Linked DNA regions of Homo sapiens. The protein of the gene in region 3 interacts with the protein of the main gene of each other region in a biochemical or structural test. Each region holds a gene or a part of one and is shown on either strand. Other genes may lie near its edges.

The links.
Region 1: the proteins of MAGI2 (region 3) and ADRB1 interact in a test that uses a peptide from one of them, tested with the Homo sapiens proteins (4 studies listed by IntAct, with this or other methods).
Region 2: the proteins of MAGI2 (region 3) and CRHR1 form a complex in vitro, tested with the Homo sapiens proteins (2 studies listed by BioGRID and IntAct, with this or other methods).
Region 4: the proteins of MAGI2 (region 3) and RPS6KA1 interact in a test that uses a peptide from one of them, tested with the Homo sapiens proteins (2 studies listed by BioGRID and IntAct, with this or other methods).

What each region holds. Positions count from the first base shown.
Region 1 is NC_000010.11:114,039,691-114,046,885, reverse strand, and holds the start of ADRB1 (beta-1 adrenergic receptor), read right to left. Parts: upstream 3,021-7,195; 5' UTR 2,754-3,020; coding exon 1,320-2,753; 3' UTR 1-1,319. UniProt on the Homo sapiens protein: Beta-adrenergic receptors mediate the catecholamine-induced activation of adenylate cyclase through the action of G proteins. This receptor binds epinephrine and norepinephrine with approximately equal affinity.
Region 2 is NC_000017.11:45,829,314-45,836,333, reverse strand, and holds the end of CRHR1 (corticotropin-releasing factor receptor 1 isoform 2 precursor), read right to left. Parts: coding exon 7,013-7,020; intron 6,774-7,012; coding exon of another isoform or gene 6,687-6,773; intron 6,241-6,686; coding exon 6,120-6,240; intron 5,918-6,119; coding exon 5,764-5,917; intron 5,455-5,763; coding exon 5,394-5,454; intron 3,197-5,393; coding exon 3,124-3,196; intron 2,883-3,123; coding exon 2,797-2,882; intron 2,621-2,796; coding exon 2,485-2,620; intron 2,328-2,484; coding exon 2,286-2,327; intron 1,711-2,285; coding exon 1,570-1,710; coding exon of another isoform or gene 1,521-1,569; 3' UTR 506-1,520; downstream 1-505. Other genes in the region: LINC02210-CRHR1 (CRHR1-IT1-CRHR1 protein), read right to left, coding at 1,521-1,710, 2,286-2,327, 2,797-2,882, 3,124-3,196, 5,394-5,454, 5,764-5,917, 6,120-6,240, 7,013-7,020.
Region 3 is NC_000007.14:79,450,650-79,458,324, forward strand, and holds the start of MAGI2 (membrane-associated guanylate kinase, WW and PDZ domain-containing protein 2), read right to left. Parts: upstream 3,019-7,675; 5' UTR 2,672-3,018; coding exon 2,371-2,671; exon of another isoform or gene 2,308-2,370; intron 1-2,307. UniProt on the Homo sapiens protein: Seems to act as a scaffold molecule at synaptic junctions by assembling neurotransmitter receptors and cell adhesion proteins. Plays a role in nerve growth factor (NGF)-induced recruitment of RAPGEF2 to late endosomes and neurite outgrowth.
Region 4 is NC_000001.11:26,553,748-26,560,767, forward strand, and holds part of RPS6KA1 (ribosomal protein S6 kinase alpha-1), read left to right. Parts: intron 1-466; coding exon 467-504; intron 505-794; exon of another isoform or gene 795-846; intron 847-848; coding exon 849-991; intron 992-1,403; coding exon 1,404-1,474; intron 1,475-1,789; coding exon 1,790-1,878; intron 1,879-2,906; coding exon 2,907-2,971; intron 2,972-3,250; coding exon 3,251-3,353; intron 3,354-5,059; coding exon 5,060-5,190; intron 5,191-6,978; coding exon 6,979-7,020. UniProt on the Homo sapiens protein: Serine/threonine-protein kinase that acts downstream of ERK (MAPK1/ERK2 and MAPK3/ERK1) signaling and mediates mitogenic and stress-induced activation of the transcription factors CREB1, ETV1/ER81 and NR4A1/NUR77, regulates translation through RPS6 and EIF4B phosphorylation, and mediates cellular proliferation, survival, and differentiation by modulating mTOR signaling and repressing pro-apoptotic function of BAD and DAPK1.

The DNA.
Region 1 (7,195 bases), on a different chromosome or scaffold from region 3:
ATTGCACATGGACCAATTCCTCACACAGTAGTTAGTTGCACCAGAGTATAAATACTTGGTAAAACACACAAGAGGAAGTAGAATTTACACACAAGTGCTAACTTTCACCAGCAAATTCACGTGGGCACTTGGACATAAAAAAAAATAAAAAATCCTTAAGATAATTATATTTATAATATGGATACAGTTACAGTACCATGATAAAGGAGTATAAAAAGGTATTTTCCCAATGAATCATTAGCTCAATAACATACTAGACAACAGAAGTAGAGTTTGAATTTTATTTAAGATCTGCCCAGCCCCTCTCCCTTTAAAAAATATTTAATTTCTTTTTGTGCAAGTAACATCTTCTGTGGATTTTGTAATTCCTAACACTGTGCAAAAATGGCATTTTGAACCACTCCTTTTTTTTGTTTTTGTTTTTATCCACATGTGCAGTAATCTGAACTGTTTCTCTCTCTCGCTCTCTTTTAATGTCCTGTCTTCAATTGACAGAGTCACATGTCACAGAGAGAGGCTCTGCGCCTGGTCCTTCCAACTAATATTGATACATAAATAAGCTGTTTAATATAAACAAGTCTTTCTATCTGCTGTGCAAATGCACAGTGTGAGGTAGAAATCCCTCAGCCTGACCACCCAGGCGCGCGGGGGACAGCGGGTTTGCCCTACACAAGGAAAGCAAGGTGGGGCTTGTTCCAAGAAGAGCTTAACATTTCTTGAAACGTGATTTTTTTTTATTTTGCCTCCATCCTTTCTCTTTGCTTTCATAACAGCAGAAATCATTACTTAGAAATTAAAATGAAATTTCTCTGGAAAGCAAAAGGAAATATGTCTTGACAAACTGTCATTCTCCTCTCTCTGGCTGGTAGTGTGTTCCTGTTCCCGGGAAAGGGATGGGAGCCACGATGATCGATTTTAATCCCCTCCTAATGCTTCTCCCTTCCCCTAACCCACCCATCTTCCACTCCGGTCCTCTCAGAGAGTGTCAAAAACCACCTGGTGGGGGAAAAAAATCTAAAGATGCATCACACGCACACACAAAAGAAGGCCGGACCACAAACAGAAAAAAAAAAAAAAAAAAAAAAGAAGAAGAAAGAAAAGAAAAGAAAAAAAAAACAACAAGGAACATCAGCAAGCCACTCTCCCATCCCTTCCCAAACTTTCCTTTTTGTGCAACGGTCCGTGGCTTTTCTCTTTGCCTCGGATGATTCAGACGAGGATTGTGGGCTTCGAGTTCACCTGCTATCGGTCTTAAGTAAACACAGATCTCCTCGTTCCCCTGGGAAGCCGTGCCCGGAGTCCGCGCCCCGCGCCGGGCCCTACACCTTGGATTCCGAGGCGAAGCCGGGGCGGCACGGCTCGTCCAGGCTCGAGTCGCTGTCCGCCGCCGCCCCGCCGTTGCAGCCGGCCCAGGGCTCCAGCAGGCGCGCGGGCGGCGTGGCCCCGACGACATCGTCGTCGTCGTCGTCCGAGGCGGCCCCGGGCGATGGCGGGGGTCCGGGCCGGGCCAGACAGCCCGAGGCGCGCGGCCGGTCTCCGTGGGTCGCGTGGCGCCGGCGGGCAGCCCTGCGCGCGCAGCAGAGCAGTCCCTGGAAGGCCTTGCGGAAGTCGGGGCTGCGGCAGTAGATGATGGGGTTGAAGGCCGAGTTGGCGTAGCCCAGCCAGTTGAAGAAGACGAAGAGGCGGTCGGGCACCAGCTCGCGGTGGAAGGCCTTCACCACGTTGGCCAGGAAGAAGGGCAGCCAGCAGAGCGTGAAGACGCCCATGATGATGCCCAGCGTCTTGAGCGCCTTCTGCTCGCGCAGGGCCACGAGGCGCGAGGGCCGCCGCTTACCCGCACGCCCGTTGGCCAGCGGGGCGGTGGCGGCGGCGGCGGCGGGGCGCGGGGGTCCGGGCGGCGGCGCGGGCGCGGGGACGGGCGAGGGCGAGGGCGAGGGCGGCCGCGCTGGGCCGCCGAGGAAACGGCGCTCGCAGCTGTCGATCTTCTTCACCTGCTTCTGGGCCTCGCGGAACACCCGCAGGTACACGAAGGCCATGATGCACAGGGGCACGTAGAAGGAGACTACGGACGAGGCGATGGCGTAGGCCCGGTTGGTGACGAAGTCGCAGCACTTGGGGTCGTTGTAGCAGCGGCGCGCCTCGTCGCTCTCCGCCCGCCACCAGTGCATGAGGATGGGCAGGAAGGACACCAGGGCCGAGATGGCCCACACGGTGCACACGAGGCCCCGCGCCCGCGCGCGCGTCAGCAGGCTCTGGTAGCGGAAGGGCGAGGTGATGGCGAGGTAGCGGTCCAGGGCAATGACACACAGGGTCTCGATGCTGGCCGTCACGCACAGCACGTCCACTGAGGTCCACAGCTCGCAGAAGAAGGAGCCGTACTCCCAGCGGCCCCACACCACGATGGTGGCCCCGAACGGCACCACCAGCAGCCCCATGACCAGGTCGGCGCTGGCCAGGGACATGATGAAGAGGTTGGTGAGCGTCTGCAGCCGCGGCGTCTTGGCGATGGCCACGATCACCAGCACATTGCCCGCCACGATGAGCAGCACGATGAGCGCCATCAGCAGACCCATGCCCGCTGTCCACTGCTGAGACAGCGGCTCGGGGCTTTCGCTGGCGGGAGGCAGCAACGAGGCGGGCGGCGACGCGGGCACCAGCAGCCGCGCCGCGGTGGCCGCGCCGTCGGGGAGCGGTGCGGCCGACGACAGGTTACCGGGCTCGGAGGCGCCCAGGACGAGCACCCCCGCGCCCATGCCGAGCTGCGGAGGCCGGGGGCGGGGGGTGTGGCAGGGCTGGGCCGTGGTTGGGGAACACCCCAGAAGCCCGGGCGGCGTGGTGCGCAGAGGGAGGTCGCGGCCGGGTCAGGGCAGCCGCGGCGCGGGGCCGGAGGCATGGGCGCCGGGCGCCTTTCCCGCAGGAGCCGAGCGCTGTCGCTGCCGCTGCCGCCGCCGCCGCCGCCGCCGCTGCTGCTGGAGCCGCTGCCGCTGCTGGAAGAGCCGCCGGGACTTCAGCATGTTTCTGAGCGCGCCGGGCCCGCAGCTCCGGCACCCAGCACCCACCCCACCCCGCTCCCACTCCCCAAGCCAACCCCCGGGGCCTCGCGTCAGGCTCCTGCAGCCAATCCGGGCAAAGGCACGCCCCCGTCTGGTCTGCACCCCCACCTCCAACTCCCCGCACCCCCCTCCCGTTGGCAATTGAGCGGCTCCTGAGAGTCCCGAGCTGATCGCGTAGCTAGTGCCTCCCGTGCGCCCGCGGGTTCCTGCGGACGCACCCCTTCCTGCGCCCGCTGGTTCCTGGTCCCTGTTCCCCCGCGCCCCCTTCCGCGCCTGGCTCCCCCCGGGGCCCCGTCCCCTCCCTCAGCCCCCACTCGCTCCCGCACCCACTCCTGCGCCCCGTTTGCCTCCCGCACCCGCTCCTGCGCCCCGTTTGCCTCCCGCACCCGCTCCTGCGCCCCGTTTGCCTCCAGCACTCGGCTCCCTCCTGCGCCCCCGCTCCCCCCGCATCCCCTCGACCTGCAGTTCCGGGGTTCTCTGCGGAACAGAGCGCTAGCTCCCTTGAGCGGGGAGGGGACCTTGGTGTTCAGGAAGCGCCAGAGCGCCTGGGACAGCTTGTCCGCCAGGCTTGGAGGAGTTTGCCCTGCGAGCTTGGTTGTGATGTGGGGCAGCCTAGCAGGGTGTGTGTAAAACCCTTCCCCCGTCAAGACGGGACCCAGCCAGCATGCGTCGTGACAGCTTGGGGGATTGGAGGTGGGTGTTAGTGGTTAGAAGAAACTTCCCAGCAGAGCGGGTTGCTGGAGCCAAGCGCGCATCTGTCAAGAATGCTCTCTGGGCGCTGTTCTTGCAAGGATCCTCTGTTGAACCTCGAGTGCAGTAGATGTGGAAAGGAAGCGAAGGTTTGTGCATCTAACAGCTAACGCTGAGGGCCCTTTGGAATCGTACACACTCCTCAGTCCTAGCTAATGAACGTGTGAGCATGATGCAAAAATGTATGCTCATGATATGAAAGGAGAGGCTTAGGGAGACAGAAACGTTGAGATACAGAGTAAACGATACCACCGCGAGGGGGAAAAAACGCGTTTAATTACATTTTAGACTTTTCAATGATAACACCTGTATTTTGTGTTTTATTACTCATGTGATTTTATAATTTGAGCTGGGTCAATACAAACAAAAAGGTACTGTCAGTTTATGCTGACGTAATGAACTGCGATTTCAGATTCCTTGGTCTGCGTGCTTGTTTTCTCCTTTGCCCAAGTTCCCAGATTCTCAAAACTCTGAGATTAGTTTTGAAGGGATGAGACAAGAAAACATATAAATACTCCAGAGGATTAAAATCCAAAAGCATTTAAAGTTGTATCTGTGGTTTTTTTTTTTTTTTTTTTTGAGTTGGCAAATGAATTGCTTTGAAATTAGTGAGTTGTTAACCTGGCAAAAAGGATTATACTGGGGGTGAGGGGACAAGAAAGCCATGAATATGCAATATGGCAGGACTGCAAGCCCCTTCTCTAATTTGGCTCCTGTAGTGTCCTCAGCTCAGGCCTGAAATAAAAAAAAAAATAAAAAAATTAAAAAAATCTCTAATTGAGTCCTTGAGGAGTAAACAGCTTCTAATTGTTTATGTAAGGGTGCATGAAAATGTTATATAATGCTCACAGGTCCTTCTAGCATTGGAATAAGAACAGCGCCCGTAACGAACATCATGTTCGTTGATGGTCATCAATATGACCAAGCTCATATCCTTACCTTGCAAGGAGAGACCGACTTCCACAGCTGTCCAGGTCAAAAGCAAAAAGTAATGTTTTTCAAGTTTATATAAAATCAAGCAGTTTTAACCACTTTCTCTTACATAAATGCAAACATATGAATTTGCTTTAGGCCCAAACCTCAGCATCAGTATGTTAAAACTGGGGAGTGATTTGTTTATTCACCCCCTGCCCATGATTTATCAGCTGATTTTCCAACTTGGGGAGGTTGAGGAGGAGTGGCCAGGAAACAAGAGGCGTTAGAAAGGGGAGGAAGGAGACTACACCCCAAGTTATCCAAGTCACTGAAAGCCTGAGACTCCTGGCTTCTTTCTTTTTATTTTTTTGAGACAGAGTTTCACTTTTGTTGCCCAGGCTGGAGTTCAGTGGCGTGATCTTGGCCCACTGCAACCTCTGCCTCCCGGGTTCAAGTGATTCTCCTGCCTCAGCCTGTCAAGTAGCTGGGATTACAGGCGTGTGCCGCCACACACGGCTAATTTTGTATTTTTAGTGGAGATGGCGTTTTACCATGTTGGTCAGGCTGGTCTCGAACTCCTGACCTCAGGTGATCCACCCACCTTGGCCTCCCAAAGTGCTGGGATTAGAGGCATGAGCCACTGTCCCCGGCCTCCTGGCTTCCTTCTGGACCCACAAGGGGCAGTCTCAAAATAGCCAAGGGATTGGAAGAAGTTGAAATTGACGCTGCCCAGGAAAGGAGTTCTGAGTGCTGAGCTGCAGGGTGAGGCATAGGGAATGTGGGGAAGAGGCTTTTCCTTGCCATCTTTCTGTCAAGTGGTGTTACCGGAATAGAGTGTGTCAACCTTAAATGCCCCCGAAGGGTGGAAGGCATTGCTTTTCTGTGTGCGATAAGGCCAGAACTTGGTCGTAGAGGTTCAGGGCAGAAGCCAGATTGCCAGTAACTTTGCCGTATCATCATTATATATATAAACACATCGTGACATTGGAATTGTTGGAAAACTTTCCTGAAACTTTTTTTCTCTGCTCATTCAGAGATACATCAAGTTTCTCCGAATTTCTGTATAATACATTAAATTATAAACCCTCGAAACCAGAAGGTTATTCTAGCAGGAGTACCAGTACAGGGATCTCAGGAATTCTGGGGGATTTCCTTCAATTTTACTGACAGAAGAGTTTGGAATAGTACATGTTCAACTAGAGTTGGTTGTCTAATAAAAATAAAATGTTCTCAGAACTCCTTTAATTCCTACATTTTATGATTGGTGTTTTTTTTTTTTAACTTTTTTTTTAGCCTAACACTTTTTATTCTTAGGTAAGGATACAAGATCAAGAAGAAAAGGTTCAACGTATCAACTTTTACAGGTATCGGATATTGTAAGTTAAATAAAACTCCTTCATTTCTTCATTCTTCACTTGGCAACTGTTAAAGAGAGTCAGTTCTAAAAACCCATATATTTCACAATGCTTTGGAAAATGACAGAAAGCTCCAACAATGAGGGCTGATCAGCACACTTGAGAGGTCGTGCACTTCTTCCACAGAGTTCCTATCTCAACTTCTTCCTTTCCCATCCCCCCACCTTCACCCCACACCGGGACTTGCCATGGGTTCTATTTGATCTCCCTGTCTCTGGTCCTCCCTGCTCCATTTAATCTGGCATATCATAACCAAAGGAGTATTTCCAAAATGCTGCTTTGACCAAGATGCTTTTCTGTTCAGCAACCTTACCTCTTCAATTTAACATTCACAGTTCTCCCCGGTCCAATTCTAAATGGCCTTTCCAGCCCTATTTCATATTAGAACTCTCCTTATCACCATAACTTGCATTTCTGTATTCTTTTTCCTTTTGGGGATCCATACTCCTTCCTTTTGTACATCTATACTTTCTCACTGGGTTCCCTCCACCAAAACCTCCTCCTGCTTCCCAGCGAATTCAGCCTTGGAGATGTGGCTGGACTCTTTATCTTCTCTGCCCACTGCTTCTGAAAATGATCTCTCCTTCCTCTGACCTATAGTAGTGACTCTGCCAATTTCATTTCAGGTGGCAATTTACAATAGGTTGCCTTTTGATACTTCTTATGTTGTTATTTAATTTTTATATTTTCCCCTTTTCTTCTCTTATAGATTGTAAGCTCACTGAGAGCCAGAATTGTCTCATACATTTTTATATCTCCCATGTTTACTGATATTTACTTGATATTAATGAACATTTAGCTTTGATTCATAAATATATGATATTTAATTTATTAAAATATTCTCATTTTTATACACTTGAGACATAATTGAGTGTTTTAGTAGTTACAATCTTCACTCTTGCTTATAATTTACAGCAATAATCCATATTCTTACCACCTATTCAACATTTTCACATAAACATTTCAAAATACTTTACAAAAGCAAGGTAGGCTCATGAGATAAATGTATATCATACCTATTCGTAGTAAATAAAACGAGACATAGGTAAGAGATTTTCCAAA
Region 2 (7,020 bases), on a different chromosome or scaffold from region 3:
TGCCCTCTCTGTACTCCCCTTCCCTCGAGTTTGCACAAGAAACCTCAGGGTCTCAGGGATGGCTTCTTGTGGCGGCCCTAGTGGAGACAGCTGCATTCACAGCCTGTCCAGTGGCCCAGCATCCTAATTCTGCTTCCCACCAATCAGCACAGCTCCTGCCTGGGGCTGGGACACACTCCCGTCTCCTTTGTTCCTTCCCCTGACCCATGGTGTCCCTCCTCTGCATCCCTAACCGTGGCCCTCCTCTCCCTCTAATTCACCTCCTCACAACAAGCTGTCCCTAACTAAGGGGGCCCTGGCCAGACCCACCTGTTCCTCGAAGCCCTCCCTCCTGCCCTCACCCCTCTCCCGGCCCTCAGGGGCTCTCCTGGCACCATCCTTGCCGGGGTGAGAGTGGGGTCAGGTTTCTCAGCAACACAGCAGCCCCTGAAAGCTGGGAAGCAGCCCCCACCTCTGTGAGACACCCTCTCCATCCAGCCCCCTGTGGAGTCCAGGCCTTCACAAATGCTGGTTGAAAAGATAAATATTATTTATACCAGCCACCCGCCTCACAGCCGACACCCTCATCTTCTAGTGCCCCCCAAAGCCCTGCCCTGGCTGTCCAGTCCCTCTGGACATGGGCAGGTCAGTGGGGGCTGCGGCCGGTCCACACCTGGAGTGTAAGCAGCACGTTGTCCCAAGAGCCACTTGGGCAGGGGTCTTCTCCTGGCTTGCTTAGCTAGTGGTCCTGCCCCAGAGGCCATCCAGGGCTACAAGCTCTGCCCCAGAGGCTGGGACTGGGACACCCCTGGCTCTTGCTCACAGGCCACTCTGCCCCCTCCAGCCCCCATCTTCTCACAAAAGAGGAAAAGGAGCAGGAGGTGACTGGTATGGGGTGGTTAAGTGAGGGGAAGCTGGCCTGGCCTGCAGGGTACTAAATGTTCAGGGTGAAGGCAGCAAGGCAGGGCATTGCTGGTGGCAGTGCCACAGTGCCAGTAAGGTTCTGGAGGCCTGGGGGGGTGACTCTAGTGCTGTGGCCGCAAGTCTGATGATGACACCTGACTTCTGTCTCCAGGGTTCCTGAGTGAGGGCCCTTGGTTCCCAGTGGTGTCGGAAGGCATCACCGAGGTCCAGAGGCGTCATCGTGGTGAGTCAGAGGCTGTCACGAGTTGCCCATGATGCCCCAGGGCAGCAAATGGCCTCCCCACGGTTGCCGAGGGCAGCCCCAGGGCCCAGTGGGCTGGCCTTCTTGTGCTCTGGGAGAAGACAGCCTTGGAGGGACATGCGTGCTGCTGTAGGTGTCCAGCGCCCCATTTCAATTCATTCCCATGTCCCTTCTCCAGGGAGGATTGGGCAGGGAAGCCAGAGGCCCTGGGCCCGGCCCAGTCCTGTAGGTGACTTTCCACTCATGAGCTAGAGTCCTGCACGGCTGCAGGGGGAGAGCGGCCCCCCCAGGCTGTCAGTGCCAGCTGCTCCTGGGGGAGTGGGCATGAGACCTAACAGGTCACCTCCACAGGCAGGGTGGTCAGGGAGCCTGGCCGTCATCCCCCCAGCCACAGCTCTTTGGGGGCTGCTCCATGACCTGCCAGCTCAGACTGCTGTGGACTGCTTGATGCTGTGAAAGCTGACACGGGTTGGGGAGGTGGGGATGGACATGGCACGGGCCACTCGGGCACGGATCGAGTGCTTGTCCTGCCACCGGTGCCACCTCTTCCGGATGGCAGAACGGACCTGTGGGCACAGGGAGGAGCACGACATCTGAGCCTGTGGCTCAGGACCCCCTCCCTCCCCTGGGCCGCCACGAGCAGCTGTGCAGGTAAGCGGCTGTGCAGGTCAGCTGAGTACATGGAAGTCCTCAGTAGGGGATGACACTCACAGCCTTAACACGACTGCTTTGCATATTTGTCGGAACAGGTTTCTCAAATGTCCTGGGGAAGGGGCACCCTTTTCTAACCCACACGAAGGCACCATATGCCCTTTGCCATGAAGGCTCCCTGCCCTCAACCCACATGTATCCCCTGCCCAGGGCTCAGCCCTTCCTGGTTTTCACAGGCTCATCAAAGATACTGGAGCTCTGGCTTCCAGCCTGGTGCCAGCGGCCTCTGAGAGCAAAGGAGGGGGCTGTCACTGTGGGAGTGGACAGGTGGGAGGGGCCACCCTGGGGCTCCCAGCAGCATACCCCTAGGGACCTAGGAGCAGGGAGGGAGAGAGGCAGCCCTGGGAGGGGAGGAGAAGGCTCTAGACAATCGCCAGTCCCAACAGGCCTCACAGCCCTGAACCCCGCTGCAGGGCCCCCGGGTCCTCACCTCACTATTGAGGAAACAGTAGAACACAGACACAAAGAAGCCCTGGGGAGGAGAGAGGAGGCGTCAAAGGTCGGCTGCAGGTGTTGCCCACCCAGCCTCTGGGCTGCCCCTTGCTTCTCCCTGGCCTCCTGCCCTCCAGGCCTCTGCTTGGCAGAATCCCCACCCAAGGAGGTGCTGATGTGTCCCTCCAGGGCTGTACCTGGAAGGATTCCAGGAAGGAGTTGAAGTAGATGAAGACGACCCGGGAGACCTCATCCTCCCCGGGATTGACGAAGAACAGCATGTAGGTGATGCCCAGGAGGGGCAGCAGCACCAGAGTGGCTTTCACAGCCTTCCTGGGGTGGGGCGGGTGGGGAGGCTCGGAGTCACAGCCCACCCCAGGACGGGCTGCCCGCTGGCTCGGCAAAGAGGGCCAGGTCGGGGGAGGGAGTGGCAGGTCTCTGGCACGTGAGAGGCATGGGGAGCAGGGGTTTCATCAGGGGGAGGCCTGAGGAAGGTGGTACCCGGTTACCTGTACTGAATGGTCTCAGACGTGGTGGATGCCCGGAGCTTGGTCATGAGGATGCGGACGATGTTGAAAAGGAAGATGAAATTGATCTGCAATTTGAGCACACCAGCGGGCCGGAGTGTGCAAGAGGCTTGGGACCCAGGCTTCTCAGCTCTGGCCTCAGTGCCCCTGCTGTTCTCCCTCCTCCTCATGAGCACCTGCACATCTCTGACCCATGCCCCCTCTTTGGGTGGCCCCCACCTCTAGGTAGAGGAGTCCTTTCTGTCCACGGTTGGCACTGATTGCCCCTCCCCACTGGGCCCTGTCTCCTGCCCCTACCCAGGTTCTTACCAGCAGGACCAGGATCATGGGGCCCTGGTAGATGTAGTCGGTGTACACCCCAGGCCTTTTGCCAAACCAGCACCTAGAAGGCCACAGAGGAAAGGGGAGGAAGGGTCATCTGCGTCCACCTCGATGGCATGGGGAGGGACAGTGCTTGGCCAGGACAGGACTGGGGCTGGAGGCCAAGAGGTAGATGTCCCAATTCCAACCCTGGCAGAAGGTCAAGTCACTTGATCCCACTGCCATGCCTCAATTGTCCCATCTGCAGAACGGACAGCATCCTCTGTGATGAGATGCAAAGTTGGAAGCAAGCACCGGGGCAGGAGGTAGACAGTGGGAAAGACTGAGTGGCTGGGAACGGGCATGGGCCCAACACGAGGCTGCATCCTCGGCTCCTCCTCACAGTCCCCTGGCAGTGGCTGAGGCCCAGCATGCCCTCTGGGGGGCTGCTGGTGGGAGTGGCACCACACCTGTCACCCAGTGGGCACCCAGCAGTTCGCAATCTCAGCCTGAATCTGTCCAGTCACAGCCTGAACAACCTTGAGAGGAATACTTGCACAGGTTCTACCTGCTGCAGGAGGTAATTGCTTTGCATTTTCCCGAGTGTCCCTCCAGCAAGCTCCAGGGAGGCCTGGGGAGTGGGTGGGGACCAGACAAACTGGAAGCCCTTATGTCCTCGTGGGTATGAAGACCCCCAGTGGCTAGATCTCATAAGCCAGAAATTGAGATTTGTAAATGAAACCTTTGGATTTTTTAAAGGTTGGCTACAAAATCGAGTTTTCAGAAAACACCATGCTGGCCACACACAGCTTCTGAGGGCCGGGTCCAGTCCTCGGGCCTCTGGTCTGCAAGTTCGTTTCTGGTTTCTCACACCCAGATCCTCTCTGTTGCAGTGTTGAATTCTCACCACCAGGTGGAGCTTCAGAGCCGCTCAGACTCACTTTCTCCTTTAGCCCAAACAGTTTTTGTTTTGCTTTGTTTTTTGAGACTCATGGAGTCTCACTCTGTTGCCCAGGCTGGAGTGCAGTGGCACGATCTTGGCTCACTGCAACCTCTGCCTCCTGGGTTCAAGAGATTCTCCTGCCTCAGCCTTCCCGAGTAGCTGGACTACAGGTGCGCACCACCACACCCAGCTAATTTTTGTTTTTTTGTTTTTTTTTTAGTAGATACGGGGTTTCACCATGTTAGCCAGGCTGGTCTCAAACTCCTGACCTCAAGTGATCCGCCTGCCTCGGCTTCCCAAGGCCTCAGCCAGCCTGAGTCAGGAGGGAGTCAGGAGGGAGTCAACCACATAAACACGCAAGATAATCTTCCAGGCTCCTCTTTCAGCCCAATGAAGCCGTGCAGGCCCCCTCCCCTCCATGGGGGAGGAGAGGGCTTGTCACTGTGGTGGAGGCCACTTGGACGCCAGGTCCGTCAGTCAGATAGGTTCCCGGGAACACTTGTTTGGCAAAGAAGGTCCTGGGGCTCCCCTGCCATCCATGTCCACCTTTTCTGCCCCGCTCTCTCTCAGTGGTTCTCAATCTGAGCTGCACATTAGAATCACCTGGGCAGTTTTCAAGACTTCTGGGTGCCAGGCCACACCCCAGACCAATTGCGCCTGATTCTCTGAGGGTGAAGCCTGGGCATTGGTACTTTTCCAAGCATTCCAGGTGATTCTAATGTGAGCCAAAGTTGAGCTCCACTGCAGCAGAAATCAAGTTTCCAGGCACGATTGGAAACATCTGAGTCCATTTCATAAGGAACCAAAGAACTTCAGAGCTGGAAGAAGCCTCTGAGATCATCTAGGTCCACTTCTATTAAATTCATGGACTCTTTTATTAAGATGTCTTAATATTAATAGAACACATTTATATAGCATTTACTCTATGTGCCAGGAGCTATTGTAAATGCTTAATATAGATGGACTCATATCACCCCACAACAGCCCTTTGAGGCAGTAGCATGTCCATTTTACAGATGAGGAAACTGAGGCACACTGCAGTAATCTGTCCAAGGTCACACAGCTATTTGAACCTGGGCAGTCTGGCTCCAGGCTGCTTCCTGTGTAAGCTCAAGGCAGATAAAGGAGGCTGGGTCCTGCTTGTCCAGCCCCACCCAGGCAGAGCACAGGCAGGGACCCTCTGAATGAGTCCAGCCCCCAGATCTCTCCCTTTATAGATGCAGAAACCATGGTCCTGAGGGGAAAAAGCCAGCATGGCCAATGCCCGTGGGGAGTGTCACCAAGCTGGGCTGGGAGCCTAAACCTTGGGGTCAGGAAGGGAAAGGAGATGACTTACTTCTCATTGTCGTAGTACAGCTTCCCAATGGCCCAGGCCACAATGATGGGGAAGGGCACACCTGGGGGAGAGATGGGCTGTCACAGAGCCCTCAGCGGGGGCTGGAGGATGTGGGCCTGGAGAACCCCAGTGCAGCCCAGGCTCCAGGGGGTCTGGGGTTACTCAGGGTGGATCTCAAACTCACACACCTCCTTCAAGGTGCTTCTACTGCCGCCCACCCCCAAGAGGAGCAGAGGGCTATCGTGCACACCTTACCGCCCCAACCCGACCTCCATCCCTCAGGCCCCCCAGCCCGCTGGCCTGAGTCTGGAGGAGAGGGCAGCCCGGCGGCCGCCACTGCCCAGGCTGCGGAGGTGGCTGCCCAGCTCACCCCAGCCAATGCAGATGAACATCCATTTGCGCAGCCGGTCAGTGGAGTAGGTGAGCACGATGGCTGTGTGCAGGTAGCAGCCCTCGCCGAACATCCAGAAGAAGTTGGTCACATGGAAGTAGTTGTAGGCGGCTGTCACCAACCTGCACCAGCCCTGCCACCCCACCCCCAACCAGAGATGATGATGGGGGGCAGGGGAGGCACCAAACCCTGGGCCTGGGCCTCCCCAGGGCAGGACAGGGCATACCCTGGGATCCCACTCCTGTTCTGTGGGCTCCTCCTCTGCAGGGCAGGCGGGCCCCTCCTCTGACCTGGGTTTGGCCTGACCTGCTCCCCGCTCCCCTGCCAGGACGTACCACGTTGCTCTGGTGGACCTCGGGGCTCATGGTTAGCTGGACCACGAACCAGGTGGCGTTGCGCAGGATGAAGGCGGAGATGAGGTTCCAGTGGATGATGTTTCGCAGGCACCGGATGCTCCTGGTGCAGCAGGGCGGGTGGATGATGGGAGCGATAGGAGAGAGAGGATGAGGGGTAGGCCACCTCCATCACCCCAGCCCAGATGTGTAGATGAGGAAACTGAGGCACAGGGTGGGGCTGACTGGCCAAGTCACACAGGGAGGTGACAGCCAGGCTCTCCTAATGCCCCATGGAGCCCTTCCTGCCTGCAGCCCACCCAGACATAAGCCCCAGGCAGAGCCTGGCACTCCATGGAGCCTGTGCTCCATGGACCAGGGCAGCTGGATTCCTGGCGATGCCCGCTTCCCCTGGGGGTGCCTTCTACTCCCTGCCATTCCAGGATGGACAGTCACAGGGGTCAGCCCTGCTCCCAGCCTCCAGCCCTGATGCTCGGCTCCTGATCCCAACCATCCCCATCCCCGGCTCTGCCACCTGCATCCTTGGCGGTAGTGCTGGGGCCCAGGTACCTTCGAACCTGAAATGGGGCACCACTCCATGGAGCCCCCACCTCCAGGGCTCCATCTGCCTGGTCACCCCAATGGGTGCAGCCTGGCCTGGGTATGGGTGACATAAGACAAGTTTTGTCCCTCCCCACCATTCCAGCAGCTACTGGGGAGAGGGCAGAGCGGCTCTGCCAGAGGTTCCCAGAGACCTGAGACTCTCAGATAAGCCAGCCCCTGCCACCCTCTCCCAGCAACCCCCACCCCAACCTAGAGCTGCTCCTCTCACTTCTCCACCCTGCTTCTGCTCTAGGTCCTGGGGACAGGAGGAGGCAGTGCTGGGGTCTTCTCACCTGAGCCG
Region 3 (7,675 bases):
TGAGTTCTAAAAGCAATAATCTTCCACATAAAATTCAATACAAGAGTGATCTCCAACCACATTAGATCAAATTATGGCAAGATTCAAATAATATCTAATCCAGGTCCTCATCTTATATAGGAATCCCTGGCATATGGTCATTTCAGCCTCTTCATGGATACCCACAATGATGGGAACTTCAGCCAACAGGGTGCTCACAAATTTTTGGAAAACTCTGTTAGAAAGCTCATGATTTAATGAAAGTAAAGCTGCTTCATCCTTTCAAATTTCTCATAGATTTATCACCATTTTGTCCTGTGGGCTATCACAGGATAGTCAGAATTCCTTTTCTTACCTGATAGCTTTTCGCTATTTAATGATAGCTTTCATTCTTTCACTTCTCCACGTTAAGTCTTTCCACGGCATTTCATAGAATACATCTATAATACACAATAATCTTCCTTTATTTCTCTTTTGAACTTACTCTTTGCTAGCGTGACAGTTTGCCAACGTCCGCCTCAACAAGGAGTGCTCAGAATTGAACACAACATTTAAGATGTGATGATCATTGCAAACTATAATAGGGCATCCGTTTGTGGGACTCTATTAAGTCCAATTTAACAACGCTTAACTTTTGCAGCCACGTTCCATGACAAATATCAAGCATTTGGCCAACAAAACCATGGTCATTAGTTGTGTAGTAGACTTTTCGTACCCAAAGATCTTTCCATTTATGTCTATTCCTATAAGGTGGTATTTTGACATCGAACATGTTAACATGAATCTCTGTATTTGAACCTTAGGTATCTTATCTTCAAAAATATCAAGTTACTCTATTTTCCTTCCTACCAAACTCATATCCCTTCAGTGTTAAATAGTATGGAGCTATGTTGACTTATAATAACCTATCTCAATTTATTACCTCTTAATACTCAAGAATACCCAAGGAAAACATTTTCTTGTATGGCAATTTACATTTAAGAAACCTTGCCCAGTACTTCTTTTTATCTTGTTTATTTTAAAACAAGTTTTTTAGAGAATAATTTAACAGTGCGGTACATCTCCGTAAAAGCATTTCTTAGTAGTTGATCATGATTAAGCGGCAAAATGCAGGTAATGACATGCTCAATTCCACCTTTGAGTCAGGACAAACAGTGTACATCGACGACAACAACAAACCCTTATGCTAATATGCCTGTGACGCAAATATCCATACATACCGCACACGAATTGTGCAGTGAGCTAAAAAAGAAAACAGAAAAGAAAAAAGCTACTACTTTATTCTACTTAAAGTTGTCCTCTATTCAAACTTTTATCTCACTCTTCTCTCCTTCTGCACCATAATTTTCTTTCGAGCAAAGACAGGGAGTTCTGGATGATTCCAATCTCCCCAAATCCACATCACAGCCTCCAATTGAGGTTCATTTAAGTCAGGTTGGAGCTGAGGGAGCCTGGGCTGGAACCGGCCAGGGTTTCATCCAGCTCCTCCCCCAAAACACGCCCCCCAAATCGGAGCCAGAGGAGAGCCCAACCACAGAGGACTTCCACTCAATGAGGGCAACCCCTGAGTAAAGTCCATGCGGACAACCATTCATCTCCTCCGACAACCATTCATCTCCTCCGACCCCCGCCCAGCACTAGACTGCGCTCCTAGCACCGCGCCTTCTTCCGGAGCCTCCTCCCCCGGGCTGGCTAGGGGTGAGCGCAGGGGTTAGTCAGTACGCACGTGACGCGCGATGCCCACATGACACGACCGTGAGCGGGGGAGGGGGACACGGAGTGAAGAAGGGGAAAAGTTACAGAAGACCCGTCAAAGCGCCCAAAGCAATTTGTCCCTTCTTTTCTTCGCCAGCGGTGGCTCACGGATCCCTAAGGGACAGCTGGGGACCCAGGCGCCCCCAGCCCAGCCCCAGAAACGCTGGACGCAGTTCTCCGCTCACCCCACCACCTTCTCTTCCCAGACCCGCTGGTGATGCCGCTGCACCCTGAAGTTGCTCCTTCCTTCTTTCCCTCCCTTCCTCCCATTCTTTCTTTCTTTTCTTCCTTCCTCCCTTCCCCAAAAGCTCTTCATCCGCTTCGGGTGATGCCACTGACGCACATTCAATTTGCCCCAGCAGCTCTGAGGAGGTCAGACCAGGCCGAGCACCTTCCAAAGGGGAGGGTCTAACTGAGCAAACAAAGTTGCACGCCACACCACAACCTGCCCCTCCCCTCCCTTTAGCCCCCAAGTCGAATCCCCGGCGAAACTCACTTGCACTGCGGGTGCTCTCTGGCCCCCACCCCATCATCGCGCAACACACCCCCTTCAACATGCGCGGCCACCCTTTCATTGCCCTGCGCCCCGAGCGGTCCCACCGCCCGGCAAAACACTGAGCAAGCCGCTGCTCTCACCTTGCTTGACACACTTGAGCCGGAGGGGGTCCTTGCAGTGTTTGATCACGGCCAGCACGTCCCTGATGGTGAGCCCCGCCACGGGGGTCTCGTTCACCTCCAGCAGCAGCTCCTCCGACACCAATTTGCTGCCGCTCTCATAGGCCACCTTGCCGGGCTTCACCTCCCCCAGGTAGGGGAACTGTCCATTCTCGGCGCCCCCCTTCAGTTCAAAGCCCAGCTGGCCCTCCGGGTTCCTGCCAATGACACTCTCATGGACTTTGCTAGTCCAGTGGCTTTTCTTTTTCAAGCTTTTGGACATGGCAGTGGGGCGAGTCGCCTCAGTTCCTGGGCTCCTTGGGGTTAGGGGGGCTGGTGGTGAGAGAATGAGGATGGAGGAGCAAGGGGGCCCAGGGGGAAGAACAGCAGACTTTGCCTTCGCCCCCCTCTATTCGGTGCTTTCCCTCTTCTTTGGATGGAGTGTGGACGAGGAATGGGGAGGATGAGAGGGACGGCTGGGCAGAGGTAGGAGAGCTTGGATGAGGTTGTGCTGTCCCTTGAATGACACTCAAGGCTGTGGCCCCGCAGCAGAGGAAGCAGTGGTGGTGGCGTCGGCGGCGGCGGCGGCGGCAGCCGGAGCGAGCAGTAGCCGAGCTGGTGAGCGGGTGTGGTGGGGGTGGGGAAGGAGGGTAGGGATGCCGGGGGCCACTCCTGCGTGGTGCGAGTGGGAACGCGCGCGCGCGCCTGGGTGTGTGTTGTTAGCTGATATCCATGGCAGCTGCAGTGGCAGGGTGCGTGTGCGTGTGTGTGTGTGTGTGTGTGTGTACTAGTTCTACTGTACTGGCAGACGGGAGGAGGCAGGGGAGGAGGGGCGCGCGCGCCGGGTGGGGAGCCACGGAGGGCTTCGCCGCTGCCTCCCTCCCTCCCTCCGCAGCTTGACCCGGTAGTGAAGGCAGAGAGAGAGGCAGGCTGGGTCCGCCTGGCAGCCTACGGGAGGAGGCGGGAGCCGGGAAGGAGGGGAGCCTAGGCCCGGCGTGGGGAGGCCGGCAGGAAGGGCCTCGAGCCCAGTGCGGACCTTTCTTCAGCCTCTGTGCGACCGAGCCGCGCGCCAGGCTCCTGTGCGAGGAGGACGCGCTGACTCCCTCCGACCTGGGCTCCGATGGAGCAGAAATAGCGGGACCTGGACTTGTGGCGCGCCTGGTGCCACATCTCGGGCTCTGCGAGCGTCCTGGCGCGGGATCCTGCCGTGAGAAGGAGTTGGGGCGGGGGACCCGGCGGGGCATTGCGGGAGAAGGCCTGGGATCCCTGGGAGCCTTGTAGCGTGGGGGAGTTCACTGTGTAGAGAGGTTTCATGTCTTCATCTATATAGTCACTTATTTGTCTTAAAGTTCTCGAAATTCCCTCTTAGAGAAGGAGAAAGTTAGAGAACTGGAGGCTGCGTACCCTGATTACGCAGAAGGGAAGCAGCCTCGCATTCCCCGGGGCAGGCCCCCGCCCGCGCGTCCCGCCAGTAGGGGAATTTAGCGGACGGCTGCGGTTGTCTGGTGAAAGGCTATCCAAGGATAAGGGGCTTCACTTTTCCCAAGTAGGGGAAAGAGAAGGGGTCTACAGGGCTAGGGGTGGAGGGAGCGGATGCAGTGAGCAGCCTCCGCAGAGAAATTGACAATTTAACCAGGGACCTGCGGCAGAGACAAGGCGGAGACACTCCCTTGCCCAGGAAAGCCGCCAGAGTCCGGCTTGTACCTGGGGAAGAATCCTTAAGACGGTCTGGCCCAACACTCCTTTGCTCACAGAGAAAGGGGAGAAGACTCCCGAGGGTGAAAATGGTACATTCGGAGCTGGAACTCAGCTCGCTGACCCCAAGCAGTGTTCCCTTCTTTTCGCCAGGTTTGCATCCAAGAGAGGGGAGGACAGGGGCAAAAGGATGCAGGGAGGCTGCTGATTTCCACTGAAGAGCTAATTTCCTGTGAGACATTAACAGTGATTTAAGAAAAAGATTCCTGTAACTGGTAAATGAATTTCATTTGCTTAACTTTTAGATGATATGTTTCAGGCAAAAAAAAAGTTGTGCACCCACTTATCTCTTTAAAGCGGAGGATGAAAAGCATTGAATAGGTAGGATTCTTAATGTCTGAGATGAAGGCGATGTAGGAGGCAAACAATACGGTTAAAAATGTTGAGTCGACCCAAACAGAAAGACCAGGTTTCAATCCAGACTCTGCGGCTTACTGAGAATATGATCTTGAGTAAACTGCTTGACCTTCCTGAGCCTCAGCTTTCTTAGTTGTTAAATGGACTTTAACAATACTAATCTGTTAGGACTGTGGTGAGGATGAAATCAGGGAAATCAGTCACAGCAGTGCTCTCCTGGCACAGGTGAGTAGGAGTTCGAAATGATAATTCCCTCCTCTTTCCCTCTTAGGTATAACTTACTACTTGGGGATGAGGGGGATCAAATGTAGTCAGAACTGGAAGAGATCTTAAAAAAAGATGATTTGTTTAACCTTGTGTCTTTTTTTCACTTGAGAAAACAGATCCTCCGTAAGTTGGCTGCACTAGTTGAAGCTTATTCAGTGAGCCAGGGGCAGTGCCAGGATCTGAAGCCAGAGCTGCAGGCAATGCCCAGGAGTAGGCAAGACTTGATAGCAAAGCCTAATCTCACCCAGAGAAGTTGAGTGTTAGCATTATGAGGCATAGTTCTAAATGGAAACTCATCATGAGAACCGAATATATACATATTGTAAAACCAAATGACAAGCTACCATTCATGGAATATACTAATATTTATTAGGTTCTAACTACATGCAAGATGTTGTTTTATAGGCTTTACACATAATACTTAATTTCTCCTGACATTTTGATAAAATAGGTACTGTTATCTCCTTTTACAGGTAAGGAAACTGAGGTATACAAGGATGAACTTTTGCAAGGCTACAAATCTTGTTAATAGTGAAGCTAACGTTCAGACCCAAGTGGTTCGGCTCTAGACTTTGTCTCAGTTACTGAATTGAACTCTCTGTGCACTTACGATGTGTCATACCAGTTCTCACTACATAGTGTCCCAAAAGATTGGGCCTGCTCTTTCTTTCAGAGACAATTAGGAAAAAAGTAAACAAACGGAGCAGGATTTGGGCATAACAGCATGCTCCTCCCATCCCCCAAATCCCAGGAGTGTCACTGAGGTCAGTGCCAGTTAACTTAGTGCTCTTCAACTTCACAGCTACCCTTCTTTGCCCTAAATTGTGACATTAGAGCTGAAATCTGTAAACGTCTTTATGGTCAGTTGGCACAGTGTTTAGCTTTGTCAATAGAAGGTGCTAGGGGAACACTGCAGAAAGAAAGGGGCTCCTTTTCTTGGTTCCAGTGCTTTCCTGCTTGCTCCTACGGTGTGGTGGCCAGTGAGTGACTTTCTGACCAGTGGTGTGCAAGAAGGCCATGTTACATAATCTTCAGTAAATTTGGCCAGTTCCCTAGTATGTGTCTTTCTATGGAGTACCACTGGCATGTCAGTGGAATGGCTTCCTAGCAAGTTTTACTGAAAACACAGCTGATGGTTTCCTCAGCAGCCCAGTGTGTGACACCTTAAATTTCTGGATCATTAAGTGGACCACAGCCATATTATTTCCAATGAGCGCCTACTTTCAGGCTTAGTAGGGTGGAGGGTGGGTAGGGGGAAGTTCTACTCAGTTATTCCCTCCTTGGGTACTCTCCTAGAGCCTGAGAGATAGTGGCTGTTCCCAATAACCACTATTACTGTATTCTTTAGTGGGATTTTTTCCTGTCCTAATAGTCAATACCCTTTGACTGGATCTTAACTGATAAAAGTGGAACCCTGAGGAAAGCACTATCCTTGGAGTCAGAAATTGGGATCAGATTTTTTTTCTTTCTCTTATGGTATTCCTCATATTCGCTTAATTTCTCCACTGCCTTTACCCTTTTTGGATTTGATGCTATGTCAAGAAAAAATTATTTCATCACTGAGCACTCTGAGTGTAGAGCAGAGTGCTAAATATTGCATGCTATTCCAGAAGAAAAATAGTTTAGGAATCCTAAAAGCCAAAGAAAGAAAGATATGAATGCATTCAGTTCTTAGAAGAGTTCTATGAGATAGATGCTTGTGGCAGACATAGTCTCCACCCAGATCTCCTAGGATCCCTTTGGTTGAATCTGAGTATCCTTCCTCTAGCTTCTGTGTTCTTTTACTTCTCACAGCCTGCCCCGAGAATCTCTTTGGAGGAAGGCCCAAACACTACTAGACTCACTTTGTGTACTGGCATAGAGAGCCAGACAGAACCACCTGCAAGTTTACTTCTTTCCCAGGATACCCTTTGCCAAGGACTTTCCTATAGAGTATAAAAGACCAGCCGTCTTGCCTCTAGTAGCAAGAAAACCTGAGGTGTAATTTACACCCTGAGGCTCCCCTATAGAATTATATTGATGTTAATATTTTGCCTGAAACCACCTTCTTCCCTATCTTGCTTACTGTGGTACCTGATGAGTTTTTCTTGGTAGCATTTCTATAATAAATCACTTGCAGACAATCTTCATCTCAGGGTTTGATCCTGGGGATCCTGACTTAAGACATTGCTATTCTTTTTTTTTTTTCTTTTACAGATGAGGAAACTGAGGATCAGGGCTTTTAAATTGCCCCAAATCACACTACTAATAAGAGATAGAGTTGTGGTACCTTTTTTAGAGGGACCATTATTCTGCTGACTGCAGTACTGTAGAGCATAAAGTTTCTTATCCACACTGTTTCTTAGTTCAGTCTGTCAATATCACTACTCCACGATTATTGTTGTTTGTTTTTCTTTCTCCCTGTCTTTTACCTCAAAAATCTCTATTGTGATGCCAGAGAGACCTTTCTGAAACCTCTCCTTTTTTCTGTGTTTAAAACCCCCCAGTGCCGCCCATGAAATACACAGCAAAGTCCAAACTCCTTATCTTGCTTGGATCCTCCTTTCCACCCTTTTTAACTGTTCAGCCATATTTCTCCATGTACTTCTGAGATTGGAACCCAGGGCAACAAAGCTAATGTGGGTTCTCCAAGATTAACACAACTGAAAGGAGGCCCCTTTATGCCATCTATTCTAGGTCCCTTGGAATATAATTAAAAACAGGAATTTCAACATTGAAATGTAATGATGTTCAGGTAAGGGCAGTAAGGTACATTGACTTGAGTCAATCTCCCACCATGTCTGGGGACTGGGACAGCTGAGCCAGGGGTCCTACCTAAGGGTCAGGCCTGTGTCTTCACTTCTCCTTTCAACCCTTTACTTCTTCCAGAGTTGAACGGCTTACTTTCCTTCTCTCACTAGGCCATTTC
Region 4 (7,020 bases), on a different chromosome or scaffold from region 3:
AGATGCCACCTTTAGAGGTCTTTCCTTGATAAAGCCCTATAGAATTTTCCCTAATATCTAACTACCCTCAAATGATAACTAAGGAGCCAGGGGCAGGTGGTGAGTTGGAATAAGATCTGGCTTTAGTGTTAGGCAGCCCTGTATTCAAATCCTGTCTCCACCTACTAGCTAGACTTACTAGCTCAATGACTGTAGAGCTACTTAACTGCCCTGAGCCTTAGTTTTCCCATTAGCAAAACGGGGCCCTAATAGTACTTGCCTCACACAGTTGCTTCAAGGATTAGCAAAAAAGATAGGCAACACCCCTGCGTGGTACTGCTACCACCCTGCAACACCCGCCCAGTCATCAGAGAGAATTGGGTGGAGCACCTCCTCTGGGCTGAACCCAACTCCCACAGCCCTGTGGTAACACCATCACCCACACGGCCACAGCTGAGGGGCCCTGACCACTATTTCTCTATTACAGCATCCTTCTGGATGAGGAGGGCCACATCAAACTCACTGGTGAGTGGAGGGCGCCTGCCCCCTCGGGACCCAGGGGAGGACAGGACAAGGTCATGATAGGTCTCGGCTGAGTGCTGGGGGCTCATTCTTCCCGAGAAGCCGTGCCAGTTACTTGGAAGTGGTCAAAAACTCAGGCCTCAGACTTGGAACACCCTCAGCTGGAATCCCAGCCCCTCATTGTGTAACGTTGAGCAAGTCACCTGACCTCTCTGGGCCTTAGCTTCCTCCTGAGTGTCATGGGGGTGATGCCTTCTGGCCTCTGGGCACGGGGGTTGGGTGTGCAAAGGGTGGCAGCAAGGAAGGCAGGGGTCCTAAGGTGTGTCCTCCTGCCCTCCTTGCTGTAGACTTTGGCCTGAGCAAAGAGGCCATTGACCACGAGAAGAAGGCCTATTCTTTCTGCGGGACAGTGGAGTACATGGCCCCTGAGGTCGTCAACCGCCAGGGCCACTCCCATAGTGCGGACTGGTGGTCCTATGGGGTGTTGATGGTGAGTGCCCAGACAGGGGTAAAGGATCCAGCCCAAGCCTCTGGCCTCAGTCTCCCTATCTGTACAGTGAGGGGGTTGATCATTTCTAGGGCTCTCCCCGTCTCCTCTCACAGCCAAGCTGGCCTCACCCTATATGCACCTGCAGTTTTCTTCCTTGGAAGGATCCCAGGCTTGACCCCACCTGGGACGCGCCTAACCCAGTGCTGGCCTTCTCCCCAGCCTCGCGCCCCCACCGCTGCTCCTGGTGGTCTGGTTGGCAGAGGCAAGAGGGACGGGCATAATTCTTGCTCCAGGCTGACTTGGATGTATCAGCAAGAATCCTGGGACTGGGGCAGAGGGGTCTGACTGGGAGGAGGCGGGAGGTGTGTCGGAGACAGGGATCAGAGCCTGAATAGATCCTTGTCCTCTGCAGTTTGAGATGCTGACGGGCTCCCTGCCCTTCCAGGGGAAGGACCGGAAGGAGACCATGACACTGATTCTGAAGTAAGCCCCAGCCCTGCCCTGATAACAATGGACTCCTCCAAGCCCCAGCCCCAGTTTGGGGGTCAGAATATTATTACCCTGTCCCTGCCTCAGCTACCCTCTCTAATGAGACTCTCCTCTGGGTTAAACATTATACCTTCCAGAGCCCCTCTTTCATCCCTGGGGGCCTGTGGGTAGGATCCCTGAAGCCTTTGGGAAGTGAATTAGTGGATGGCTTGTCTAGACTGAGCTGGGAACTAGATCTGGACAGGGGCCGGGGGAGATGGGGCCTCTGGGGCAGGGCTCAGCCTTGATGAGTCCCGGGGGCTGTTTCAGGGCGAAGCTAGGCATGCCCCAGTTTCTGAGCACTGAAGCCCAGAGCCTCTTGCGGGCCCTGTTCAAGCGGAATCCTGCCAACCGGCTCGGTAAGCAGCCCCAGCTCAGGGGAGGGGATGTGGCGATGGGGAGCCGGGTACAGCTGCAGCCTAGGCCACAGGGCCACATCTGGGCTGAAAGGGGCCGTTGTCCTTTGTGTGGGCAGACAATGCCGCGGGCCACCCTGCTTTCTGGCTCCATGTGTGGTGTTGTGGAGGGGGGAGTTGACCTGTGTGTAGGGGGAAGGCAGGAACTGAGTCATCCCTACTCCCTCTGGGGACAAGGACAGAGGCCCCCACACAGCTTCTCCGCCAAGGCTGCTGGCACAAGAGAAATAGCATGAGCTCAGGAGTCAGAAGGCATAGGTCCCAATCCCGGCTCTGTGTCAGGTCCCCACTGCCTGGCACAAAACAGTCCCTCTATAAATATTTGTTAAACGAATGAGGCCACTTATGAACTAAGTGACCCCAGGCAGGTGACTTCACCTCTCTGCACCGCAGGTTCCTCGTCTCAATGGGAGATGATGATCCCAAGCTTGCTTCAGGGCTCTGTTGATGAAATGAGGTTGTGTGAACATGCCGGCATGTAGTAGGTGTCCAGTGTGTGCTGGCTTCCCTGGCTCCTGGGTTCATCTGGTCCATGACCAGCTGTGTAAGGTCCAGTCAAGGCCCCTGGGGTCGAATGGAGTAACAGCCTGTCCTATGGTTGAAAAGGTCAATGGGATAAGAGGAACAGAGATGAGGCTTGCCTTGGAATGAGGTGGGGCTCTCTGTAGGTCTCAGAACAAGCTCAGCTTCTGTTCTAACTGTGTGGCCTTGGAGAAGTTGCCTAAAGTCTCTGGGCCTTCCTCCTCCCACTGGTACATTGGAATTTCTTCATCAGAAGCTCCAGAAAGTGGAAAATGCTGAGTAGGTGACAGGCCTTAGGGTGATGGCTGGGTAGATTTGAGGCTGAGTGAGCCCATTTTCCCCTCTGCTCCAGCAGCTGGTCCCAGAGCCCTGTGAGGCTGCTTGGTGGGCAGGGTAATATCTGGGACTTGTGCCAGCCAGGGACAGACCCTTCATTTGGGCTCTTTCAGGCTCCGGCCCTGATGGGGCAGAGGAAATCAAGCGGCATGTCTTCTACTCCACCATTGACTGGAATGTGAGTGTGTCCACCCACACCAGGGCTCTGGCCAGGGCTCAGCCATCTTGGCCACAGGAAGGGTGGTGGGAGGGGAGCCTCTGCCAGCGAGGGCCCCAGACGCAGGAGCAGAGGGTCACAGCCTGCCCTTGAAGACAAGGGCTGGCCTCCTGAGGGCAAGCAATTCCGAGAGCTGGGCAATATGGCCTATGTTCCAAGCCCAGCACCTCCTCCTGCATGGGGCTCCTGGTGGGCTGTTGAGGATGCCATGGTGACCAGAGTGCCCACCCCACTGTGCAGAAGCTATACCGTCGTGAGATCAAGCCACCCTTCAAGCCAGCAGTGGCTCAGCCTGATGACACCTTCTACTTTGACACCGAGTTCACGTCCCGCACACCCAAGGGTGCGTCCCTTATCTGTTTTGTCTGTCTTGGGCTGGTACAGGAGGGAAGCCGGGAGTCGGTGGCAGCTTGGGGGGCAGAGATAGTCAGGGACACTGACAGGCCGAGGTATGCGGGTGGGCAGGCGGGTGAGTTTCTGGCTCCGTGGGACTGACTTTGTCCCTGTCTCACTCCGCCCGACTCTCTCACTATGGGGCTCTGTGGGTCTCTTTGTGTCTGGTGAGAGAGTGGGAGTGGGGATGTGTGGGTGGTGAAGGCCACAGTAGAAAAGCCAGGACCCCTGCCCGGGGCACCTTCCAGCCCACTGGGAAGACCAAACACATCAGGCTTACCATCACGTCAGGGAGAAAGAATCTGACCCAGCCACACTGTGTGGTGGCTGAGCAGAGGTGACAGTGCCCATAGGTCAGGGACAGGCATGGGAATCAGCTTTGGCTGCCCTGACTGCCCGGCCTCCGTGTACTTATCTGGAACAAGGGCACAGCCACAAACCCACTCATTCCCTGGGGTTGCTACAAGAAGCCAGTGAGGGAGCTTCTGGGAAGGAACCTGGTGAATCCTAACTTTTTGGCCAGATATTGACAGTGGGTGTGGGGTGGAATGTTCTGGGAAACCTCCTATAAGGGCATGTTTTAGGAGAGGGTGTGCTTTTCTTCTCTCCTCTCCTCCCCTCCCCTCTCCTCCCCTCCCCTCCCCTCCCCTCCCCTCCCCTTCCCTCTCCTTCCCTTCCCTCTCCTCTCCTCTTTTCAAGATGGAGTCTCGCTCTGTTGCCCAGGCTGGAATGCAATGGCGTGATCTCAGCTTACTGCAACCTCCACCTCCTGGGTTCAAGAGATTCTCCTGCCTCAGCCTCCCGAGTAGCTGGGATTACAGGCATGTGTCAGCACGCCTGGCTAATTTTTGTATTTTTAGTAGAGACGGGGTTTCACCATGTTGGCCAGGCTGGTCTCGAACTCCTGACCTCAGGTGATCCACAAGGGGGTGCTTTTCTCACTGCACTTGCACGCCTCTGATGACAGAGACAGCACTTCTCCAAGCAGTCCGCTGGGCAACGTGACAAGTGCAGCTTCGTAGGAGTCAGGGGCCGGAGGAGCAGCATCAGGCAAGGCTTCTCAGAGGAGGGAGCGTGCGAGTTGAGTCTTGAAGGATAGGCAAGGAGTGGATTATCTAGTTAAAGGGAACAGTGTGTGCAAGGGCTCAGAGACCCCTCTAAGGATCTGAGAAGTCCAACATGGCTCAGCTGTGGTATGGAGAGAGAGGAGGTGAGGATCACAGGGCCCTCAATTGCCAGACTCAGGAGCTGGACTTACTCCTGAAGGCAGACGGGAACCTTTGAAAGGTGTGGGCAGGGTGGCAGATTTGTGGTTGGAACCTTCCCTCTGGCTGCTGTGCAGAGATGGACCTGAAGGGGCTGACGTAAGATGGGGAAGCTGGGGAGGAAGCATCCAGGAAGGGATGAACTGTCTTGGCCTGGGATGGAGGTGGATGTGAGAGTCTTTTTTGTTCCTCATGCGACAGGACTGGGCTGGTCTAATAAACACATATGAGCAGTTGGGCCAAGGCCTGTGATGGACAGGCCCTCTGCAGGCTCCCGCCACGGCCAGCCCCTGAGGCAGGTCTGGAGGCCCTGTGCTCCCCCTTTGCTGGGCTGCCTCAGGGTCGAGGGGACCTCCTCAGGTACCCTCACATTCTCCTTCCATCCGTACAGATTCCCCAGGCATCCCCCCCAGCGCTGGGGCCCATCAGCTGTTCCGGGGCTTCAGCTTCGTGGCCACCGGCCTGATGGAAGACGACGGCAAGCCTCGTGCCCCGCAGGCACCCCTGCACTCGGTGGTACAGGTGAGGGGGGCAGGGGGCTGCTGCTCCATTATCCTTTTCTAAAGAATGGCTGAGTACACAGGCTCTGAGTTGGACAGAACCAGGTTCATACCCTCATGCCACTGTGGGACCAGTAGGGCCTCCAACATAAAACAGGGACAGTAAGGCCCACCTCACACAGTGGCCCTGATAATTGGATGATGATATGGGTGTACATTTCCCAGCACAGAGCCAGGGTCTGGGTACATGTCAGGAGGTGCCCAGGGTGGTGGTGCCGAGTGACTGTCGTGTCTCCGGCATAAGTGTAGCGAAGGACTTGGATCTCATCACACTTGTTCCCCATTTGTACACTTCTACTGCTAATGAAAGTTTCAGGTTGAGAGGCAAGAATGTAGACTGTGGAGCTCATTGCATGGGTTCCAGATTCACAAGATAATGGACTTTGGGGTTTTTTGTTTGTTTGTTTTTGAGACGTAGTCTTGCTCTGTTGCCCAGGCTGGAGTGCAGTGGCACAATCTCAGCTCACTACAGCCTCCACCTCCCAGGTTCAAAAAATTCTCCTGCCTCAGTCTCCCGAATAGCTGGGACTACAGATATACACCACCACACCCAGCTAATTTTTTTTTTTTTTTTTTGTATTTTTAGTAGAGACGGGGTTTTACCATGTTGGCTAGGCTGGTGTCAAACTCCTGACCTCAAGTGATCCGCCCACCTCAGCCTCCCAAGGTGCTGAGATTACAGACATGAGCACCTGACCAGATAATGGACTTTGGATGAGATACTCCCTTCCTCGTGCCTCAGTTTCCTCATCTGTAAATGGGGGAAATGATAGAAGCTTCCTCCATAGAGCTGTTATGAGGATTATTAGAGTTAATACATGTAAAGTTCATGTGGGCTGGGCACGGTGGCTCATGCCTGTAATCCCAGCACTTTGGGAGGCCAAGAAGGGTGGATTGCTTGAGGCCAGGAATTTAAACAGACCCATCTGGCCAACATGGCGAAACCCCGTCTCTAAAAATACAAAAATCAGCTGGGCGTGTTGGCGCGTGCCTATAGTCCCAGCTACTTGGGAGGCAGAGGTTGCAGTGAGCTGAGAACGTACCACTGCACTCCAGCCTGGGCAACAGCGTAAGACTCTGTCTCAAAAAATAAATAAATAAAATAAAAAATAAAGTTAAGGTGACTATGTAATTTATTTTCCAAACTGGGACATCTTAGTCCAGGACAAATATTAAATCAGACTGGATGCAAGGACCGCATGCGCAAGCCAGGGCTGGCCGTGGGGCATGCAGTCACCTGATGAAAGTGCTTAGAATAGTGCCTGGCACACAGCACACACTAAGCACCATTCAGCATTGCTACGGCTAATGTCCCAGAACCTTGAGACACCCCATGAGTTGAGCTGTGACACCCCAGAAAGGGAGGCAGGCCACTCAAAGCCGTACTTAGTGGCACAGCTGGAACTCAGCTCAGGGCTCCTGCGTCCCTCCCAGGCCTGCCCAGACTTTTCAGAACTAAAGTCCTCTCCATGTGTGTTGTGACCCTGTTTCCCACTCCCTACACTGCCCTCTGACCACAGGCTGCAGTCCAGGCAGGCTGGGAGCCAGTGAGTATGCCCATTATATAGAGTAGAAAACTGAGGCCCAGAGAGGGGCAGGCTGTCACCTGCGGTCACATGGCCAACACTCTACCCCAAGTCTCCTGGCCCTTCCCTGGTGCTGTCTCTACTGAGCCAAGACCTTAGGTCCTGGGGGATGACCCCTAGCACTCTAGAGCCAGGGGTCAGCCACAATTTTTGGTCTCCTACAGCAACTCCATGGGAAGAACCTGGTTTTTAGTGACGGCTACGTG